Regions from separate parts of the Homo sapiens genome. Here region 2 is linked to region 1. The links come from fine-mapping of genetic effects on gene expression. A gene starts in region 1. The other region holds a variant in brackets. All regions are shown on one strand. Distances are between the middles of the regions.

Region 1 (2,910 bases):
AGGACAGTGTCAGTGTGACCAACACAGCGGGTGCTGGACATTCCTGACACCCTTGTCCCCTGGCTAGCCTTTGATCACTTATCTCCCAACAGCATTTGGTTTTGGGAATCACTTTCAGGCAAAGTATACAGACTTTGCCTTAGCGTACATAATCTATACGCTAAAACTCATCTTTTGTCACAGCCCATCACGAGCATCCCATTAGCATAAAGCACCAAACACAGGAATGCTTTGTTTTCCAAAATCTGTCCACCTTCACTCCTAAACAGTCCCTCCGTGTTTTAATTTGTATATTCTGGAAAACATCATGGGATGACAGTGGCAATTCAAACAATAAAATAATCTAAGAACCGAAAAAGGTCCTGGTCTGGTTACCTGCGGATGGCTGCCAGGGGAAGAGTGTGGTGTCCTGCTTTAGGTAAATATGAAGTTGAGGCTTCACTACTTAGAATGCAGCCTTGGAAAGCAGACTAGACTTGACTCTGAAAATGGATTAATGAAACCTATCTCACAGAGCTGCTGAAAGGAGTAAACGAGATAATGGCTCCAAAGTGCCTAGTAGACAGTACAAGCTCACTAAAGGAAAGCTATTTTAGTCCTCTGTACAACTGTCCAGGAAAATGTGGATCTAATGAGAATTCCAAACAGAGGGAAAGAAAATGCACAAAACTATCAAGTTTATTAGTGTGTCTTGATCAAATGCCCCGAATGCTATTTCCGGATAAGAGTCTGCGTGGTCTCCTCGGCCAGGCCAGAGACAAAAAAGGTACTGGATTGATATCCATTTTATTTCTGTAAAAGAAAAGCAGTTCCTTTGTGTCGAGTCAAATGAACTGCAGATCCCCAGAGGGCTGTGACCAAGCAGCCCGCCAGGCCTCGGAGCTCTGCCTCGCCGGTCCTCAGCTACGTCCCCCGCTCACCGTCCCTTCTGGAGAGCACAGCACTGCTGCGCAGGGTCTTCCAGCAAGTTCCAGCGCCCACGCCGCAGCTGCCGCGCTCCCTCCAGAGGGCCGTGCCCACCGCCCGGGAGGGGTCCACCCCGGGGACGAGCCCACCGCCCAGCACAGGACCCCGCCTGGGAGGAGCCCACCCGGGGGATGAGCCCACCGCCCAGCACAGGACCCCGCCTGGGAGGAGCCCACCCGGGGGATGAGCCCACCGCCCAGCACAGGACCCCGCCCGAGAAGAGCCCGCCCCCGGGGTCCGACGGCTGTCCGGGACCGACTCACTGCCTGGGACGGGCCCCCCATCCCAAATTAGCTCCCCGCCCCGGTCCAACTGCCGGGCGTCCCAGGGCCCCCGCCCTAGCCAGGCCCGAGTCCCAGCCCTGGCTGCGGGGACGCGGGCGCGCGCCGCCCCTCCGGCCCGGGACCCCGGGAGCCCTCGGAGCCAGGACCGCTATCCTCGCCCGGACCGGCTCCAGCAGCTTCGGCCCGCTCTGCTTCCGTCGCCCCCAGACCCTAGTCTCCCAACAGCGGAAACGCGCAAACTCACCCCTGAAAAGCAGCAGCAGGAAGAAGTCAGGCAGCCGAGCGCAGAGCCGGAGTCGCGGTGGCCGCCTCAGCGCCATGTCGAGGGTTGCTGAGGGGCCAGCGGCAGCGCGGCGCGGCTTGTAGTCCCCGCGCGCATGCGCCCAGCCTGCCAGGACCCTGCGACCCGCCCCAGTTACCATGGCGACCGCCGGGCCCAGCCGAGCCGGCACCATGGTGACAGAGGAAGCTGAGGTCTAGCTGCTTACGGATGCAGCGATGCTCTGGACCGGCACATGGGTTCTCTTTCAATGAACTTGGCGGGAGGAGAGTAAAGAAGTATGTACAAGAGTGAAGCAGGGTATATTTCCATAGCTATAGAATAAATCCATCACAACAGGTCGGAGAAGGAACACTCCTTTAAAATTTGGGAAATAAAGTATTTCTTATTTTACAAATAAGGATGCAGCCCAGTTATCTTGGAAGCATTATCGCCTTCACATCTTTTGGGCCCCCAATTCCAAATTGATGGAAGGAAAAGAGCTGAAATCTGCTTAAAACATAAGCAATACATACATTATACAGCATATAAAAGTGATGTCTTGCTAAAATAATTTGTTTATGTGGTAGATCAAAAGCATGATGGCATACCCAATAGTTTATTCTGCAGAAAAGCAGACTAATTATTTGCTCTGATTTCTGAATACTGGGAGATAGTAAAACCAGGGAAGAACAGGTAAGATGAGGACAAACAGGAAAAATGAAGAGAAGGATAAATTAAAGCAGAAATTAGATCTAAAAAAGCAAGAGTATTTAAAGTCTCACTTAATACTATGGAAAATACTTGAAAAGCTTGTATTTTAGCAAGTATAGAAAGTACACCTCCAATGTTCCCAGAAACAGCAGTCTAGCAACAGAATTCTGAATATAATTGTTAGTAAAATAAGCCAGTTTCCAACTAATATTTTTAATGTTTAACTTTTTCATATACTCATGCTACTTTTTTAGTATTTTTAGTTTTCATGCAAAATAGAAGTATATTTACATATTATGTATACCAAATTTATATATGTAAAAGCCGGGAAACGTGAAATAGATTGAGATTGTTGCCAAGAATATGCTTCAGTTTCCATCACTGTATAATCTTCTTTGTAAATCTTTATAACTGCTCAGATCTTTATGTTAATTGATTACCTTCTCAAAAATCTTATAAAGACAGAATAAAAATTAAAAAATAACTCAATTACCTACTATGATTCTGTCTTTCCTTTCATAAATCTTCTTTATGTTCCAGGTCACCATGCACTAAATCACAAGTAAAAGTGTGTAAAAGTTGTTTTATAATGGTGGCCTCTTTCCCTTTATCAAGCACAAAATCGAGAAATTAAAAAGAAGAAAATTCGTCTTATGCCCACTGACATTTTTTTCTGCCCTCTGTTTT
Region 2 (2,910 bases), 79 kb before region 1:
CCTTGACAGGAGTTTCTAGCAGAGGTATGTGCACGTGCGCTCTGTGCGCTCTCAGCCACACCGCGGGTCTCAGATCACAAACGATGACTTGTGTCTGAAGTCGCCCTGCAAAGCCAACACACAGTTAGAGCCATCAAGGGGCCTGGTGGCAAGCAGGGAAAAACACGGAGTAAGTCTAACATGGGCTAAATACAGATGGAATAATCATTCTTAAAAAGTACCATCACTAGCGCTTGCAAAGCACAAATCCCATTAGTGTGTGTGTGTGTGTGTGTGTGTGTGTGTGTGTGTGTGTTACTGTGAAGGGGCTGAGGAGCTCAGGAGCTGCACAATCACTCAGAAATCTTCCCAGGAGACCCGTGTGGTTTCCAAGGGGGAATGTTGTTTTCCCTGCTGGGTACACCTAGGTTTCCAGGTTTACTAAATGATTACCTCCTCGTCAGTGCGGATGTAGTTAACTCCATCTGGTTTCCCTGGGTTCTTGTAACTATGAGGAGAAGAGAGCAGTTTAGCAACAGGGTTGTTATATTATTGCCAGCTTGAACTTCCCTTTTTTCACATAAGGCAGGCTCACCTTTCTCCATCCTGTTTATTGTTGATGAAGTAGCCACGTCTGTATGCACAGCAGATGCCCAACGTGATCAGGGCCAGTACAGCAAGGACAACCAGAACCCCCCCAATAATTCCGCCAATGTTCAGGTCATCTGAAGAAAAGGAGGTTTGGTGGAAGCCATGATACACACTATCTGTTATTTAAAAAGGCCCTGGCCCTGCTGTGCCTCCTTCCTTCACCCCAAACCCACTTGCCCCCTGCCCCCTCAGGCCTACCCCAGCTAGAAGAGAGAACACTTACAATCCTTCTAGCCTAGAACATATAGGACACCATAACTCCTAACTTCACACGTGAAAAGTACTGAGACTTCTACAGTTGAAATGCAGTCGCACTGAAAAGTGTATTAAAGTGGGCTTGGCACTGTAGGCTTAAAAATCCTCTGGCTGAATGCCTGAGATTACTTATGGAGGAAATGGTTATGAGGACAAGATTAGGAGCCAGGATCCCAAGAAGAAAAGAATCCCTAATTTCCAGGGCCTCCCTTTGTTGCAGATTGCTGCGGGGAAGAAAGGTAGCTTCAAGCCTTAAAGAATCTGTCTCAAAAAACAAACAAGTAAAGAATCCTAGGTAAGAACTAGAGCTTTGTCTCTGCCGGCTGCCTGACCTCCGATCTATAAGCCCTCTGAGAGGAAACCCCCTGGAACCCTTTTCTCATGTCTATACACTGGGCAAAGGCACTGGGTCACTTTCATATGGGGCTCTGGCAGCCGTTCCTTCAAGCAAGCGACACATGGAAAACTATGCAGGGAATTTATCAACAAGAGCCAAGTAACTTGGAAGTTTTAAAAAAATCTCCTTTATCCTAGTGTATTGGTTCTCAAAGATGAATGTACACTTAAAAATCAACTTGCAGGCCGGGCGCGGTGGCTCACGCCTGTAATCCCAGCACTTTGGGAGGCCGAGGTGGGCAGATCACGAGGTCAGAGATTCGAGACCATCCTGGCTAAGGTGGTGAAACCCCGTCTCTACTAGAAACACAAAAAATTGGCTGAGCGTGTTGGCAGGTGCCTGTAGTCCCAGCTACTCAGGAGGCTGAGGCAGGAGAAAGGTGTGAACCCGGGAGGCGGAGCTTGCAGTGAGCCGAGATTGTGCCACTGCACTCCAGCCTGGG[T/C]GACAGAGCGAGACTCCATCTCAAAAACAAAAAGTAAACTTGCAATCGTTTTTTTTTTTTTTTTTTTGAGACAGAGTCTTGCTCCGTCACCGTCACCCAGGCTGGAGTTCTGTGGTGCAATCTCGGCTCACTGCAAGCTCCGCCTCCCGGGTTCAAGGGATCCTTCTGCCTCAGCCTCCCAAGTTACTGGGACTACAGGCGCCTGCCACCACACCAGGCTAATTTTTGTATTTTTAGTAGACACAGAGTTTTGGCATGTTGGCCAGGCTGGTCTTGAACTCCTGACCTCAGGTGATCCACCCGCCTCAGCCTCCCAGAGTGCTAGGATTATAGTGTGAGCCACCACGCCTGGCATGCAATTTTGATGTTAAAATGTCAATTCCCAAGTTTCATCACTAAAAAGTCAATAGGCTAAAGTAGGTCTGGGGCAAAACTGCAGGAGAAAACAACCCTAGAGCAGAGTTTCTCAAACGTGACACATGAGAAGAATCCTTCGGAACGCTTGTCTCACACACAGACATTTCTAGCATATGTCTGAGGTGGGCTCGAATCTGTATGTGAAACAGTGGTCCCAAATGGGTATCACCAGGCAGTTTTGGAAAATGCTGCTCTGAGGAGAGCTCCAAATAGGGAGGAGGGAAGGATTCAAAAAATGCTCCTGGCTGGGCACAGTGGCTCATGCCTGTTAATCCCAGCACCTGGGGGAGGCCGAGGCAGGAGGATTGCTTGAGGCCAGGAGTTTGAGACCAGCCTGGGCAACACAGTGAGACCCCGTATCTACAAAAAATAAAATTAGCTGAGCATGGTGGTGTGTGCCTGTTGTTCCAGCTACTCAGGAGACTGAGGTGGGAGAATGGCTTGAAGGCTGGGTTTGAGGATGCAGTGACCTGTGACTGCACTCACTGCACTCCAGCCTGGGCAACAAAGCAAGACCCTGTGGTGTTTTTTGTTTTTTGTTTTTTAAGAAAAAAAAAAGCTCCCCAAGTGATTTGGACACATCCTCTCTGCCCCCACCCTCCTCTCAACGCCCCTCCATTAGGGGAACCAGAGCCCTGAGATAACATTACTCTAGGGGCTAAGCTTTGTCTGCAGGTAAAATTACTCGGGCTAAAACTGTCAGTTTTCTACAAGAGGGTTATAACTGGATAAATTTCTGGAGACCTGACACCACCTTACATTTTGATAA

Alleles and levels. Positions count from the first base shown, and alleles are read on the strand shown. Sizes are in standard deviations (SD) of each study's normalised expression.
As copies of T replace C in region 2, the expression in skeletal muscle of the gene that starts at base 1,582 in region 1 goes up (small effect, 0.21 SD a copy in GTEx).

What was found. PIP is the estimated chance that this variant, and not a neighbour inherited with it, causes the effect.
Region 2: its variant is fine-mapped to the expression of JAM3 in skeletal muscle (GTEx, PIP 0.99).

What each region holds. Positions count from the first base shown.
Region 1 is chr11:134,067,744-134,070,653 of GRCh38, reverse strand. JAM3 (junctional adhesion molecule 3) reads right to left here and starts at 1,582. Exons shown (of 9, transcript NM_032801.5): 1 at 1,495-1,582. The coding sequence starts at 1,570. RefSeq lists a silencer at 1,588-1,777.
Region 2 is chr11:134,146,341-134,149,250 of GRCh38, reverse strand. It overlaps JAM3 (junctional adhesion molecule 3), which reads right to left. Exons shown (of 9, transcript NM_032801.5): 7 at 575-704; 8 at 433-487; 9 at 1-105. The coding sequence ends at 70. Among named protein-coding and RNA genes, the nearest start is that of SNORD153, 3.6 kb to the left of the region's middle. The variant T/C (reference allele first, on the strand shown) is at 1,725.